Regions from separate parts of the Homo sapiens genome. Here region 1 is linked to region 2. The links come from fine-mapping of genetic effects on gene expression. A gene starts in region 2. The other region holds a variant in brackets. All regions are shown on one strand. Distances are from middle to middle. Region 1 overlaps KCTD16 (potassium channel tetramerization domain containing 16). Region 2 holds the start of YIPF5 (Yip1 domain family member 5).

Evidence for each region. PIP is the estimated chance that this variant, and not a neighbour inherited with it, causes the effect. A credible set is the group of variants that fine-mapping cannot tell apart.
Region 1: its variant is the best candidate, but not a certain one, in a credible set for the expression of YIPF5 in monocytes after LPS (Fairfax 2014, PIP 0.55).

What each region holds. Positions count from the first base shown.
Region 1 is chr5:144,376,788-144,385,372 of GRCh38, reverse strand. All of the region lies in intron 3 of KCTD16 (potassium channel tetramerization domain containing 16), which reads right to left. Among named protein-coding and RNA genes, the nearest start is that of KCTD16, 210 kb to the right of the region's middle. RefSeq lists an enhancer at 1,532-2,731. The variant A/GTATGTATA (reference allele first, on the strand shown) is at 3,356.
Region 2 is chr5:144,166,803-144,175,366 of GRCh38, reverse strand. YIPF5 (Yip1 domain family member 5) reads left to right here and starts at 4,708. Exons shown (of 6, transcript NM_030799.9): 1 at 4,708-4,832; 2 at 5,402-5,521. The coding sequence starts at 5,412. KCTD16 (potassium channel tetramerization domain containing 16) reads right to left here and starts at 4,494. Exons shown (of 4, transcript NM_020768.4): 1 at 4,358-4,494; 2 at 895-1,060. RefSeq lists an enhancer at 4,567-4,846.

The DNA.
Region 1 (8,585 bases), 210 kb before region 2:
TTAAATATAAAAATACAAGTAACAAATGCATATGTCATGTTCTTGGTTATATTTTTATTATCAATGATTTGTGGACATTATGCAACAATGCTATCTTCACTGAAGTCATCAGCATCTACGAGTAAACAAAAATATATTTTTCTGAATTTTTGTGCCTTATATTTTATTGAGAGGTTATAGCCTGAATGGAAATTTTCCTTTAGTGACAGCTATAATAGAGGAAAATAGTTTTCGCTCATATATTATTATCTTACAATGAAGTGTGAAGGAAATTATGATTTATGACTTTGCTGATTGTTTATTCCAGCTGCAGACATTATCCCCTTTAGCCAAAATACAGGCCATAATGTCCCACTTATTTGAATGTCAGACTTCCAACAGTGAGTCCAAAAGGGAACGAGCTTCTAAACATCCAAAATAAATATCACAAAATGTATGCACTTCATTACATGAAAGGGGTCATCCTACAGATTATATTGACTCTTCCTTACATGCTATTTTATACTCTTAATTACCTACTTATCCATCCTAAAACTTTAAAGAATAGCCAAGTGACCATCATTAGGAAACAAAAGCTAGAAGCCAGAAATAAGACCCTAAAAATTGTCCAATATTACCACAACAGTTCATTTGTTTTGTAGCATTTGGTCTCTACATTAAAGAAATAATAGTGCAAACATTAATGATGAATACGGAACAATAGAATATTTGTAAAATTTATCTTGAGTCATCAGAAAGAGGTTAAATTATGTTTACTATATTTTGTTTTAAAATGGTAGCAAAATAGGTAATGTACTTTGGAAGATGTAATAAAACAATGTTATAATAAATAAAATTTTATTTCGCTATAATGAAAAAATAAATAAAATTTTATGTTAAAGTTACTTAGAAAAAATGTATTTATTTTGAAAACTTCATTGTAAGGTATTAGTATATTTCAGCAGCAATGCCAACAGTGCTGTCGTTTTGGTCAGATGTCTGATGAAGACAACAGAGAAAGGATTTAAAACACAGAATGACGAAGCTCCTTTCCCACTTCTTCCTTAGCCTCCAGTTCTATCCCCTTACCAGCTTTTCAAAGCTATAAGGGTGCCAAAGAAGTGCCTGGACTTTGTCTATCCATTACAAGGAAATGATGGCAACCCATTTTGCAAAGGTTTGGATACACGTAGAAATGCTCCATCACTTGCTACCTGATCTGCATGAGAGAAGAGCATAAAATATATTAACTCACCATCTTAAATCCTCTCCCATTTCAATGACTCCCACTCATCTTGAAAATTAAGTTCAGCTTTTCCTCAGGAAAAAAACTGCTATTTATTCCATTGCACAAAGACTAATATTTCACTGGGGGAAATCATCTATTTGTAAGTGTTAATTCATAGCTGCCACATTTACTGTTGTGGTTTTTCTGATCAAAAAGATGTCTACAACTCACCATTTTTAATGAATAGATTCTTACGTATTTTTTATAATATTGGTTTTTAACGAAGTGTTTCAAACCCATCAGAAATGCCTGCTAAGCCTCGGCTCAGATGGTCATGAAGGCAAAGGACATAACTGAAACCAAATAAAGGATGAGCAAGATAAGCCTATGGCTGGTCATGATAATGCATTTTAAAATTTCCAATGTATGACTCTCATTCGTCTCTATAATGAAAAACTACCAGCCACCATTTGCTTTGCAAACACTAATCCTAGTACCTCATGGGCTTTTGTAAAAGAAAAAAAAAAATCTCCTGAAAAAATATTGCAGTTTTAGGAAAGCAATGTTTTCAGCTGCTGTAATCATTCTAATTACTTTAGAATGTTTCTTTTTTTTTTTTTCCTTCACCCTCTAGGGCCTTTTTGCCTTCAAATCAGCTACAGAAACAAAGCAATTTAGCACAGTAAAAAGCTTATTAACATATGATGCAGTTCAGTGGCATGAGAAAAGACTAGGGAGAAAACAAGAGATCCATCCCGTGAAAAAGGTAGATCTGAATATTTCAAATCAAAAAAGCTGAGCCAGGGAGTGAATAACTCAACAAAATGTGAAAAGAAAGGTCAAAATGGCAGCTCTGACGCAGAGAAATGTCAGCTCTACAGGATGAAAGATGACAGTTTAATTCCTCAACTTGCCCAGTAAGTACAGTTTACAGCTAAGGTGGGCAATTTTCTAAATCGTCATTTATCATTTAAGAGAGTCCCTAGGTCCCCTTCAACTATGCGTCTTCTGCTCTTTTCAAACTTACCTGTGAGGTACCAGGGAAGGTGAAATGGCCCCATTTATCTGCAGACAGTGAATTTGCAGGTTTCTGCTTCTCTGCAGAGGTAACAGTAAGGAAAGAAATGAGTAGAAGTTAAGTGCCAAAACTATTTTGCCAGAGCAGATTAGGAAAACCAACGTGAAGCTCCCTACCAGAGGATTGTGGGTGCTTTGAATAGAAAGGAAACAATATTTGGAATAGCATGTGAAAAATGCACAAGTTGGGCAAAGCAATATGAGAATTTAGTGGTGACATTACTGCCATGGTCTTGTTTTCTTGATCCAGGAAGAATGAATAACTCAATGCACCTCCAAATAAGAGCTTAAGTAAATGCTGAAGTAAAAGAGATGAACATCCAGAACCTCGCAGTGGATCCAGAGATGCTTTAAATAAAAACTTCACCTCCTCAAGGACAAATGGTCATTCATTCACTACTTGGCTATTGAGCATCTACTACATGTCAGGCATGGTGCTGGTGGCTAGGTATGTGGATATGAATAAAACAAATTTCCAGTTTTCTTGTAGTTTATCATATAATATGGGAGAAAGGTGATGTTTCTATTCCATATTCATTCATTCAATACTGAGTATGGAACAACTAACTATAGTGAGCTCAATAAGAGGATCCTAAGTATGGTGTCAGAGGCGAGGGGCATAGAATCCAGGGAGCCTTCCTGGAGGTGCTGATGTCTGAGCTTATTTCTTTTTATTCTTATATTTTAAAATCTTTTTTCAAGTTTTATTTTAGGTTCAGGGGTGCATGTGCAGGTTTATTACCTGAGTAAATTGCGTATTGCTGGGGTTTTGTGTACAAATGATTTAGTCACCCAGGAAGTGACTAAAGAGTACCTTCACCCTCTTCCCACATGCTCATCCTTCAAGTAAGAACCTATGTCTATTATTCCGATCTTTGGTTCCATGTGTACTCAGTGTTTAACTCCCACGTATAAGTGAGAATATGTAGTATTTGATTTTCTGTTCCTGTATTAATTTACTTAGCATAATGGCCTCAGCTACATCCATGTTGCTGCAAAAGGCATGATTTCAATTTTTAGGGCTGCATAGTATTCCATCATATGTATGTATGTATGTATGTATGTATGTAT[A/GTATGTATA]TAAACATCTTCTTTCATCCAGTCCACTGTTGATGGGAACCTAGGTTGATTCCATATCTTTGCTATTGTAAATAGTGCTGCAATGAACATATGGGTGCATGTGGCTTCTTAGAAGAATTATTTATATTCCTTTAGGTATGTACCCAATAATGGAATTGCTGGGTCAAATGGTAGTTATCTTTTAGATTCTTTGATAAATCTCCAAACTTCTTGAGATGGTTTGAACATATGTCCTTACCCAAATCTCATGTTGAATTGTCATTTCCAATGCTGGAGGTGGGGACTGGTGAGAGGTGTTTGAATCATGGGGATGGATCTCTTATGAATGGCTTGGGCCATCCCATTGGTGATAAGTGAGCTCCTGCTCTGAGTTCACACGAGATCTGGTGGTTCAAAAGTGTGTGGCACCTCCCCCCTCCACTCTTTCTCACTTGCTTCTGCTTTTGCCATGTGACATGCCTACTCCCCCTTTGCCTTCCATCATGATTGTAAACTTCCTGAGGCCTCCCTAGAAGCCAAGCAGATGCCAGCCCTATGCTTCCAAGCCTGCAGAGCCTTGAGCCAAAAACCTCTTTTCTTTAAATATTGCCCAGTCTCAGGTATTTCCTTATAGCAATGCAAGAACAGCCTAATACACTGCTTTCTGCAGTGGCTGAACTAATTTACATTCCCACCAGCAGTGTATAAATGTTCTCTTTTCTCCACAACCTTGCCAATATCTGTTATTTTTTGACTTTTTAATAATAGTCATTCTGAGTGGTGTGAGACGGTATCTCATTGTGGTTTTGATTTGCATTTCTCTGATGGTTACTGATGTTGAACTTTTTTTTCATATGCTTGTATGTCTTCTTTTGAAAAGTGTCTGTTCGTGTCCTTTGCTCATTTTTTAATGGGGTTGCTTGTTTTTTCCTTGTTAATTTGTTTAAGTTTCTTATAGATTCAGGATATTAGACCTTTATCAGATGCATAGTTTGCAAATGTCTTATCCCATTCTATAGGTTGTCTGTTTACTCTGTTGATAGTTTCTTTTGCTGTGCAGAAACTCTGGGGTCTCACTTGTCTATTTTTGTTTCTGTTACAATTGTTTGTGGAGACTTTGTCATGAAATCTTTGCCAAGGCCTATGTCTAGAATGGTATTTCCTAAGTTTTCTTCTGGGGTTTTTGTAGTTTTAGGTTTTCATTTAAGTCTTTAATCCATTTTGAGTTGATTTTTATATGGTGCAAGGAAGTAGTCCAGTTTCGATCTTCTGCATATGGCTAGTCAGTTATCCCAGCATCATTTATTGAATAGGGAGTCTTTCCCCCATTGCTTGTTGTTGTTGACTTTGTTGAAGATCATATAGTTGTTCTGTAACCTGTTCCATTGATCTATGTGTCTGGTTTTGTACCAGTACCATGCTGTTTTGGTAACTGGAGCCTCATAATGTAGTTTGAAGTTGAGTAGTGTGATGCATCTGGCTTTGTTCTTTTTACTTAGAATTGCTATGGCTAGTTAGGCTCCTTTTCAGTTCCAAGTGAATTTCAAAATAGTCTTCTCTAATTCTGTAAAAAATGGCATTCATAGTTTGATATAAATAGCATTGAATCTGTAAATTACTTTGAGCAGTGTAGCCATTTTAAAAATATTGATTCTTCTTATCCATGAGCATGGAATGTTTTTCCATTTGTTTGTGCTGTCTCTGGTTTTTTTCAGTGGTGTTTTGTAACTCTCATTGTAAATATCATTTACCTCCTTGGTAAGCTGTATTCCTAGGTATTTTATTCTTTTTGTGGCTGTTGTGAATGGGATTGTACTCTTGATTTTACTCTCAGCTTGGACATTATTGGTGTAAAGAAATGTAACTGATTTTTGTATATTTATTTTGTAGCCTGAAACTTTACCAAAGTTATTTATCATTTATAGGACCCTTTGGTCAGAGACTATGGGGTTTTCTAGGTATAGAACCATAAGTGTAGAATATTTTTTAGGTATAGAATCTCGGCAGAGGAAACCACACTTGCAACTGCATATATGTATAAAACCAGCATACTGCCGTCTATACCAGAGTATGTATGTAAGGAAAATGAAAAAAATTAAAAATATAGACTACATTTACAATACAATACATGTAAGTGTTGGAAATACATGGATGTTTGGTTTATTCTTTTATTTACATTTTGCTTTATTTGAATATAACTTTTATAAATATGTTTCTCAAGTCAGTGATAAATATTTGAAACAATAACTACTGACTCAGCCTAGCTAAAATTCTCAACATCAAATGCCAACTAAAAAGAAAAAGGCATGGATGATCTTATTTGGTGTGTTTGCAAAGGCCATCTTTGTGAAACTTTAATTTAAAAGAAAGAGTGAATAATTATATATTTTCTGTCATACCCATACAAAGAAACCTGTCTGAAAACTTGTTGAAGATGTTACCTTTGAAAATAAAATAACAACCATATTTAGGACTGGAACATGCCCCCAAGCTCCCAAATGAACTCCTTGTCTTTAATCTATTATAATGATATTCTTAAAGATATCCTCCAAAAGTAACTCCCAAACCCTCCATCAGTAATGCACTCTGTTCTCTCACAGTCCCTATAGTCACAAAGCTTATTTATAGGACACCTAAATTCATCTTATTACAATTCTAAACCCATTTCAAGTAAGCCCCTCTTCTTCTAGTACGTGAAATATCTATTTACTAATCCTCCAATCTTTATCCAAAGTCTAACCCAATGTGTAAACACAGCCTAAATATGAAAAGAGACTCCCTCTCATATCTTTCTTGTCATCCATGGGAACATGTGGGGAGTTAGGCCAAAGAGCAGGCATAAAAATGGGAAAACCTTATGGGCAGGAGAGAAGGAAGACATGGGTAGTCGTAAAAGGCATATACCTGCCTCAAACATTTCATAATAAAAAGAATCTACTTTTGAGCACAAAATATGCTGAAAGCAGAAAGTTCATCTGACAATTGCCAAACGTCAGTATTCCAGGATGCATCCCTTTCTCCATGAGTTGTAAATGAATATTCACTCTGAAGCCAAGGCATCTAAGAGAAAGGCCACAATTAATATCGCCAAATCCCATTTCACGGATGCTTGCATTTTCTCCTATGACGAATGTTAGCATAAGATTAATGCATTGTAAAAAGTCATTTAATACAAAACAACCATCTGTCTATATGCAGTGAAGCAGAGAGAAGAGGCCAAATAACACGTTGGTTCAGCTCAATCCATGCCTGGTACATTAGCTGTTTACTTGAATAATTGAAAAACACAAGTCTATTCTGTTGCCTTGACTAGGGCTAATCTAATGAAGTTAACCTGCCATTGATGACACATGTGAGATGATTTTAATGCACTTTAAACATCTTATTTAAATTACACAAGAATATAACAAAGGCATAGAAATGACATACTTAATAAAGTTGGATTCCAAAACTGTTCAAAAAAGAAGTAGCCCTGCATATTGGCCTTAACATATTGCACACATCTGAAACTAAGTAATTATTTCCAGAATTTTATTATAGAAATGAAAACCACTCTTCAACTAGCTAGATACGACATTTCAGTAGAGTAAGAGAATATGATCTAGCATCTTTAGAAGAAATAAAAAATAGTATTGATTCAAATCCTGTAAACTACTTATCAATGACCTGACAAAGCAAGAAACTACATTTGGTATATTATCTGGCAATATACACCACCTTATTCATATACATATTAGTCTAATTTCATCTCTGTGTCTGGAATTTCATAGCTGTAAGTTCTTCTATTACTTTTCACTACAGATTTTTCCTGCAATTCTAAATATACCTTCCTACCCCAACCTCCAGGCTAGTAGTCTTCCTTTCCCTGGGGAAAAAGAGGGAGAGCACAGAAGGAGGGAAGGCTGTGTTCTTTGAAATTCAGGAAAACCTCCTTAAAATCCCAAACCATGCATGGAAATCTGAATATCTGCTAAGTGTTTAAGTTCCTTTGTTTTCTTATAATTAACGTCCCCTTCTGACCAATTTCAAGTTATGATATCTATGTATATGAAAGGACAAGGACACACACAACACATACATTCATGCTTTCCCTTACTTGGAATGGAAGGAAGTTACAGGAAAACAAAGTATATAAGATTGAAAAAGAGATGCAACAGATAATTACCTACCTAATTGCACAAAATCATGGCATTGTGGAAAGGGAGGTTTACCAGATGTGGAGGGATGGAGAGTTTGATTATCACTGCTCTCTTTTCCATGTCCCTAGTCACTCCTGGGTCTGAGAACTTAGTGAACCTGAAATGACACATTTAGCACAACAGCCTGCAGAAGACTTGTCAGCAGGATGTCATTCTTGGCTGATGGATTTTTAAATAATCTTCTCAGAAGCTTAAATTTAGGGAGGGCTTCTCTTCTCCCCTCTTCAACCCAGAGTTTTAAATGTATGTAGCAGATTGGGTAAGTTTGGAGAAGAGAGGGTTAAACAAAGGGTCATAAACTGCTGGTCTGTGGACTGACTCTGGCCCCAGAGAGGCATTTTCTTTAATTGTATAATGTAATAAAATTAATAAGTGTCACATGCAGTTCCTAATTTGTGTGTTCTGTTGAATATCAGATCTGGCTACTCTAGCCAACTTTCATGTCTGGCAGCAATTAGCTAGAGCTGAGTCTCAGCTGCCCTTGAGCCAGGATATAAATTTACCAGTTTGCCACTGTCCACTCCATTCCTTATAGCCTGATATCCAGCCACTTGACTCATGTATGCTGTATCCAGGACCTCTATTAATATGTATTTGAAAATGTTATAGTTAAGATGATCAAGGAACCCCAAGAGAAAGTAAAAAGAGAGACAGTCCAATAGGGGATGTTTCTCCTTGAACAGAGAAGGGCTCCATGAAGGATGGCCAGCATTGGAGAGCTATAATTGCAGACCTGTTGGAGGAAATGGGGTAGGAAATGAGTTTGATAAAATAGAGAAACAATCCCTAAAACACCACCTCCTCATCCAGTGTTATCCCAAGTCTGAATGCGTAGATATGTACACCCAAGCCTGCAATAAGGAATAGTCCGCTGGGTTTCTTCTGTAATCTTGAATGGCCAACAGAAAGACTGCTCAATTATGAATGGCACAAGGGGTGTGGCACTGCAGTCATGCCAGAGCATTCACCAGTTCTCATCTTTACAGTGTTAGTGATCGCAGCCAATGAGATTGATTCCCAGTTTATAACTTTCAATATCCTACCATCCTTAA
Region 2 (8,564 bases):
TTTCATAACACAATAACAATACAGCCTACTGCTTTAGCATAAGGACTCAGGAACAAGTTCAAAATGTCTAGTCTACTATTTTCTACCATAATAATGTTTAACAAATTACTTACTCTGTTTCAATTTCCTCATGTGTCAAATGGGCATTACATGGCACCTACCTCATTGGGTTGTCAGGAGGAGGAGTAATTGAGTTAAAAAGTGCAAAGTGCTTAAAGAAATGCTTGGCACACAAATTCTTGAAGTATAAATAGGTGTTAGCTGTCATATTTTTCAAATGCTTCATTTTTACCTTTGGCATGAGTGGCTTTGCCATCATTAGAGCCCACTTTGAGTTCTCCCGTGCTGTTTTTCATATTATCTCCCCTACTACCCAAATTATTTGAAATACAGACTTCAGTGCTTCAGTGCTTTCACTGAAATTCATATTCCAAGCCACAATAGCCATTCACCTGACATTAGAAAGGTTTGTTACTGAAGAGGGTATTTTTGATCTCTACAATGAAAATATTTACAGTATTTACAATATTGCTTATATGTTATCTTTAAAAGACTTATTTTTAACAACATGCAGCACTTGCAATACTGAAGTCAAGCTTCCAGGAATAGTTATAAAATTGGGGTTAAATTTCTTTGCCTTTTAAAAACCAGTTCTGTACAAAAGCATCCAATGCCATTACGGGCAAACCTGTCTTCCCAAAACTATTCATCGTTCAAAGTAAAATAATTGAAACAAAAGAAGCAGAATTTGAATAACCTAGTACAGGAGACTTGATGAGGAAACTCTTTGGTAGGGGAAAAAAGATAATTTGGAGGAAATATAATTGTCATATTTGGGAAAAGAGGTTACATAGTTAATATATAGGGAGAGTAAAAACAAACACTGGCACTTACATTGGTTTTTACCATTATTGTCAGGTTTCATTGTGGAACTTGACTGAAATACACAGAGCTGCCAGATCTCCACTTCATGTGATGCTTGTGGATATAGCTGACGGTAGGAGAAAACTGCCCATGTTCAAACCATAATTTTCTGGCACAACTTTTCATGACATATGAACTGAAAAACAGAAGGGAAAGAAAGTAACTCTAAAATATCTTAGTTTCAGAGCCATACTAAGAAAATGGAGTTGTTTTGCGTGTGTTTGTGAAGCATGTAAAAGTGTTAGTGTGTATACTAACATGACTGTCTAACTAAATGATATTACTCATTATTAGGATGTCCTTTCCCTTTTTGTTTTGGTGATGGATACATTAGGTCCCAGGGAAGGACTGCGCAGCTATTACAAGTCTAGCTCATGTTGCCTCATCTCTTGACCTAGGGTGAGGCTTTCTACTCCTAATAAAGCCAGCTGGGTGACTTTAACAGAGGACGGCACATTTACCAAGTACTCCAGTCTCCTTTAATATAACTTTCTGGAGCCTATCCCAGAGTGAGGGAGCAATGCCAAAAAAAAAAAAAAAATCCAAAAAGAAATTCCTACGTGACTAGCCATGAAATTAGTGGATGTTCTCAAAATTTCTAAGGGGCATCAGCAGGATACCTTGGCTTACATTTCAAAGTCAAATAAACAATATGCAAAACTTAATCAGGTAACTCAATGTTCTTGCTTGGCTTCTCAATTGGAGCAGAAATTCAAAGGGGAAAATTTAAATAAATACGTTAATTGCTTTCAGAGACAGAAGTAGAATTTGAATAATATCTATATCTAATAATTCATTCCTAAACAGGCAAATTTTTTAAATTTTAAGTTCAGGGGTACAGGTGCAGGTTTGTTACATAGATAAACTTGTATCATGGGGGTTTGTTGTACAGATTATTTCATCACCCAGGTATTAAGCCTAGTATCTATTAGTTATTTTTCCTGATTCTCTCCCTCCTCCCTCCAATATGCCCCACTGTGTGTTGCTCCCCTCTATGTGTCCATGTGTTCTCATTATTTAGCTCATACTTATAAGGAGAATATGTGGTATCTGGTTTTCTGTTCCTGCATTAGTTTGCTAAGGATAATGTCCTGCAGCTCCATCTATGTCCCTGCAAAGGACATTACCTCATTCTACTTTTTATGGCTGTATAATATTTCATGGTGTATATGTGTCACATTTTCTTTATCCAGTCTATGATGGATGGACATTTAAGTTGCTTCCATGTCTTTGCTACTGTGAATAGTGCTGCAATGAACATACACATGCATGCGTAGTTATGATAGACTGATTTATATCCTTTTGGGTGTATTCCCAGTAATGGGATTGCTGGGTCGAATGGTATTTCTGTCTTTAGGTCTTTGAGGATTCGCCACACTGTCCTCCATAATGGCTGAACTAATTTACACTCTCACTAACAGTGTATACGCATTCCTTTTTCTCTAAAACCTCGCCAGCATCTAAATCAGCAATTTTTAATGCTCATATTCTTGTAGCTCATTCAAATTTGAAAGGGATATCCTTTTTGATTCAGAAGAAATAGAAACATCAGAAAAAAACAAAAGAGACTAGAATTTTTTTAACCATAAGATTAATTAAATAGATAATGATGGATTATTGCATCTTATTGATGACTCGAAACACAGCTTCATGGATAATGTAGCTTAAAGAAAGTACAATCACAAAGTTTATCAACTGAATTAGGATATTTTTGAGAGTAAAAGGGAGCAACATTAATAATTATGCTGAGGGTAAGTAAAAATAGGCAGAAAATGGGACAATGGAATTGTCTCCAGCAAATCATAATATGTGGTCATTCTACCTGAAGTTGTGCAGATGATACCTAAACCAATAAATGCTAAAATGATTGATGAAAGGTGGTGAACACTTGAATGAGCAATTTCAGAAATTCAAAAATATAGTTAGAAAGCACAAAAATCTAGTGTTCAGTGGCAAAATAGGGTAGCTATAGTTAACAATAATTTATTGTATAGTTCAAAATAACTAGGAGTAGATTTATAATTTTCTCTACACAAAGCAATGACAAATGTCTGAGGCGACAGATATATCTCAATTACCCAGATTTCATTATTACACATTGTATGCTTGTATCAAAATGTCACATTTATCTCATAAATATGTACAACTATGATGTATCCACAAAAATAAAACAAATAAATTCGCTAATGGGTAAAAACCTCAAAGGGCAGCTGCCTGTTGGTCTCTAGAGTACAATCCTAGGTTTTTTGGTTGGGTCTTACATCCTTTTGTTGTTGCTATTTTTGTTTGGAGGGGAGTGCGTTTTCTGTTTGTTTTATTGGGGTGGGGGGTGTTGAGAGAAAAGTTTTAAGTGAAATTTTATTGTTCCTTTGGAAACTAGTCCCCAACAATGGTCTGGCTTCTTTTGTGAGGGCCTCAGGATTTTGATCCCAGAATATAATGCAGTGGCTCATGATAAATTTTATTGCTATAAACCCTGAAGAAAGTTCTGCTCATTAGTTAATAGCATCTTATTTCGAGTCACAATATTCGGGATTCCACCATCTTGGGAAAGTGATTTAACACAGGAGCCAAAGCAATCATTTTCAAAAGAAAACAATTTAAACATCACTCATCAGTTCACAATCTTCACTTCTTTTAGAACCAACACACAAATCCCACAGGATATTTCCTGGCCCCTTCCTGTTATTCCAGCCTCAACTCCTATGTGGCTCCCCTCACTTGCTGTTCCAGTCACTCAGGTTCCACTTAGAAGAGTGGTTGACAAATTCAGCTAATGTTGCCCCCACCGCCCCCAAGGACATTTGGATTTGGCAATGTCTGGAGAGATTTTTAGCTGTCACAACTTGGTGGTGATGGTGGTGGTGGTTGGTTGGGGGGAGTACTGGCATCTAATGGCTAGAGATTAGGGATGCTACTGCTAAGCATCATGCACAGGGCAGCCCCCAATAAAGAAACATCCTGACTCAAAATGTTAATAATGCTGAAGTTCAGAGCTCGATTTTCATCTTTCCTCAGACCATGCTTCCCAGATCTTGCACACATTGTTCTCTTTGCCTAAAATATTCAGGCTATTTTCCCTTATCCTCCTTTCCCGTTGCCCTTTCTTCTCTTTTCTGGTCTTCTCTAACTCCCACTCACCCTTTGATAACCCTCTTATAGTGGCTTTACAGACTCTTCTTCCCAGATGAATGTTACTCTTTCAAAGAATTATGGAACACTAAAGAATATTAGTAGCAATTTCACATGCATTTGTATGTGTTCGATTACCCCTCTCCACCACCAACTCCAGGTGGGTAGATGTCACCTAGCTTATATTTACCACAGTATCCCCAGCAGCTAGCACAGAATGAATGAATACTTAATAGCTTCACTTACAAAAGGGAAATAGGGTAACCATCTCATTAGGTTGTAAAGATTAAATAATACATACAAACACTTTAGCACAGTGCTTGAATCACAGTAAATGCTGACACCGAGGCATTGTAGGCATTGTAGTTTGTGGACAGGAGAGGGGACTCCGTCTGTCTCATTTTAGCGCCTCCCAGTCTTCCTCCATCACCTAGGTCTGAGAAACTCCTCCTCCTACCTACGAGTAAGCAGCAATTGCTACGCCTGCGCTTTCCTGGTTCCACCCCTAACCAGGCTGCCGGAAGCACTTTCCTCTTTGGCACGGGCCAGCCGCAGGTTGGGTAGATACTGCGCAAGCTCCATACTCGTGTCTCCTCCTCCCGCCCACCGGTGCCCAACCTGCTAACACGCCTGCGCGAGCGGGCGTGCCCCGGAAGCCGTTCTTTGGCCCTGTGACACGTAGCAACGGGGCTGGTTCAGGGTCTGAAACAGAGTTTGGGGGTTGTTTGGGATTAGTGAAGCTACTGCCTTTGCCGCCAGCGCAGCCTCAGAGTTTGGTGAGTGACCCAGGCCCGTGGCACAGTGTTCAGCTTCTCTCCACACCCGTGCAAATGGGCTTGTTGCCGTCTTTCGGCGCCGCGCCCTGGTCCTTTCGCTCAGACCCTCGCTCTCATTCAAGCCCTTGCCCTGACGCGGTCCCCTGCACCTCAGGCGCGACCTTCCAGATTCTGCACTTTTTCCTGGCAGGCCGCAGGCCTTATTTTGCAAGGAAGCAGTCGCCTTGTCAGCTGTAAAGCCCAGTCCTAAGGTGAAAAATCATCTTTGTTGTTATTGATATTTTAGACCGCTTATGGAACCACAACTCCCACGACCTCGCCCCTAATGGAAGGCATATCAGCTCTTTAAGGTGGAGTTGTCTTACTGGGCCGCAACTTAAAAGAATATACATTTTCTTACTCTCTCTCCGCTACCGTCGTTCAAATGCTGCGTACTTTCCGCCCCCATCCCCTCTCCGAATTACTGAAAAAATATTTGTTGTGTTTCTATTTGCTTAAGCAGACTGCCAGGAACGAATTCAGTAGAACCTTGGGCATAAGGAATATTTGCCATTTCTCTTTTATTACAGATTATTTGCAATGTCAGGCTTTGAAAACTTAAACACGGATTTCTACCAGACAAGTTACAGCATCGATGATCAGTCACAGCAGTCCTATGATTATGGAGGAAGTGGAGGACCCTATAGCAAGTAACTTTTCATCTTTGGCAATTAATTTAGTCTACATTGCAGTGAAAACACATATTTAGAATATTTGGTTCTGCCTAAAACAATATGTGAACATGTCCTTTATCAGGAGTATGATCTTTCATGCATAATCTTCTTCCTCTAGAGAGATATGTGACACTGGCTTGGCTTCGAAGGTATTGTTCTATTTAAGAGTTGAGTGTCTTCTGCAAACTCTTCAGGTGTACCATGAATGGAAAAGTAGCTTGTTTGAAGAACTGTTTTCTAGTAACAGTATTTCTGTATTTAGAAGATGATGGGAGCTTCAGGTACCTAGGAGATAGGCTGTTAGTTCATAGGACCAGTGAAAAATTAAAGTATTTTGTTAGTAGTTAAATCAGTCCAACTCTGAGACTTTTATCAGTGCTAATTGAAAGTGCTTAGTGACATTATTTAATGATGTAAGCTCCTTATTACGAATCATCAGGCGATTTTCATACAGCAGTTGATAATCATTTTTATTACTCCTCCTTCTCAAACCCTTATGGTCAGTGCCACACGTGTTATAAGTTGCATACTGAGGAGGTTGACTCAAAGCCGTTAGCCTCTGAACATTTTTTTTTAAATGATCTTTTTATAGTACCTGGTGTTTGTGACAAAAATACATGAACTGAAGGCTTTCTAGCAATCTCACCTAAAACATCATCTCCTTAGTTTCTTAGGACCCTAGAGATAATCTTATCAGCTTCCTGTCAAATAAAGGAGCTTCCTATACTAGGATTGCTTAAACTTTTTTAGATGGTTCTGGATCTCTTTGAGAATCCTATTACAACTGGGCCTCTTTCCCATAAATACATGCATTCACTCAAACACCCAAATAAATGTGCATATATAACTTCAGACAATTCATGTGTTAAATGATGTTCATCATGGATCCCGAATTTGAAACCTCATAAAGACTGTTCCACGATGAGGGCAGGGGAAGGTTATGTATCTGTCAGTTTGTGAGAAACATGCAATACAGGAATGTGTTTGGATTAGAGTGCCCAAGAATTTAAAAAACAAAACAAAATTCAAATTCACTGTGGCTCTGTAATAGTGTCTGTCTTGGTTAGGCTATCCTTTCTAAAACATATAGTCTCTTTGAGTCTGCTTAATTTGGTATATTTTAAGGCTTTGTTTTCCCCTCTAAAACTTAACACATTTGAACAATGGGAGTGAGCATGTCAAAATACCCCGTGATTCATTTCTCTTTTCTGTTACTTAATTACATACCAATGAGGATTTATCTCTTTTGATAAATTAATGGGCAGAGTTGGAAAATTTGTATTGAGGTATTTCCATTCATTTATTTACCTAAATATGTATTTTTGGTGATTGCTCTGTGTATAGGAGAGCCAGAGTCCATCTAATAAATCCTTGCCTAAAGCAGCAACACAGCTTCGGAGAACCTGTCTCTCTATGCAGGCCTGTTTTTATCCGAATGGTTTTTATGATTAGAACTCAACAGAGCTATTCCATTTAGATTGCAGCCTACGAGATTTATCTGCCTCTGCTTTTCTTTTCTTTTCTGTCCTGTCCACGTTTGCATCACTTAAAAGGTGTGACTTACAGTCTCATTCCCTTTAACAGTCATTTCAGTTCTCCACACAGCAATTTAGATATTCTAAACAACTTGTTGCTGGTTAGCACCTGTTGCCAACTGTTCTCACAGTTTCATTCCAACCAAATCATGTACCAGTAAGCATTGCTTCAGTACTAGTGATGAAGTTTTATTCTGGGTGATTATATAACCATTATTGCTATAAACTTGGGTTTATAGATGATGCCTGGGAAAACAAGAAGCCTAATGTATTAACAGTAATAAATTTGAGTTTCTGAGATTTATTTTGTAAAAACTGGACTCTTCTGTGCGTACCTTCAAGTAGATCTGCAATCTAATGACATTTTAAATGTCCATCTCCGTTAACCAAATAATATTTTGTTTGATTTGCTAATTTAGTAACAAAGATCCGCTAATAACTTTTAGCTCTCCATTGGTGAAAATCTAGGTGCAAATAGCATATTACTTGCATTGTCTTTATGTTTTTAACTTGACTTGTTATTAGTACACAGTTCTGCATTTGCCATAATGAAGTCAGCTTTAACATTTTTTGGTTTCCTCTATAGGTGTTTCACAAGTATCATTCATAGATCCATTCACCAAAAAAACAAAAACAAAAAAGTATAAAAGGCCCTTTGATCATAATCTGTTGAGTTATATAAATGGAAAATTGGACAGGTTCCACATTGTATTCTAGATATGCTTATGAAATATATCATAATACCAAGTCACATTTTTTAAATTATGAAAGCTGTTATTTTTTTTCTTCTTTGACTTACCTGGTAGTATCTTTATGGAATATCTGAGGTTTTCCATGAACTTAGGTAACCAACCCAATATGTTAAGAGGCTTTGTCTTTGTTACTGGTACAGAGTACTTATGAGAGTATTGATTTAGTATCTGCTGCTTTTCATGTTGTTTTAGCCTGTAAAGATCGTGTCTGCCATACCATGTTTTAGTTTAAAACCAGCAGGAACAAGTCAGAAATTTTCCTGAATAGGTCCTGCCAGAAAAGGAAAATAGTAAAATTCTATGATATTGTCATTCTCACCTTTCCTCTTGAAGATGGAATGATGGTGCCACCTTTGAAACAATCAACTGCTTGCAGTACTTTTCTTCCTTACATGAAATTTATTGGTCTGTATCAGCAACTCTCAAAATTTAGGCTGTAGACTACAGAGGGTCCTTGAGACTCTTCTGAGATTCTTTAAAGTCAAAGTTATTTTCATAACAATACTAAGATATCATATACCTTTTTAGGTATGTTAACATTTGCAGTGCTGTTGCAAAAGTATTGATTGGTAAAACTGCTGGTACCTGAGTATGAATCAAGGTAGTGGCATCAAGTTGTTCTAGTAGTCATCATATTATTCATCACTCTATATACTTGTTAGAGAGTTGGCAGACAGTCAGTTTCATTTAAGGATTCTCTTGAGGAAGCAGTAAGAATTATCTTTTTATTAA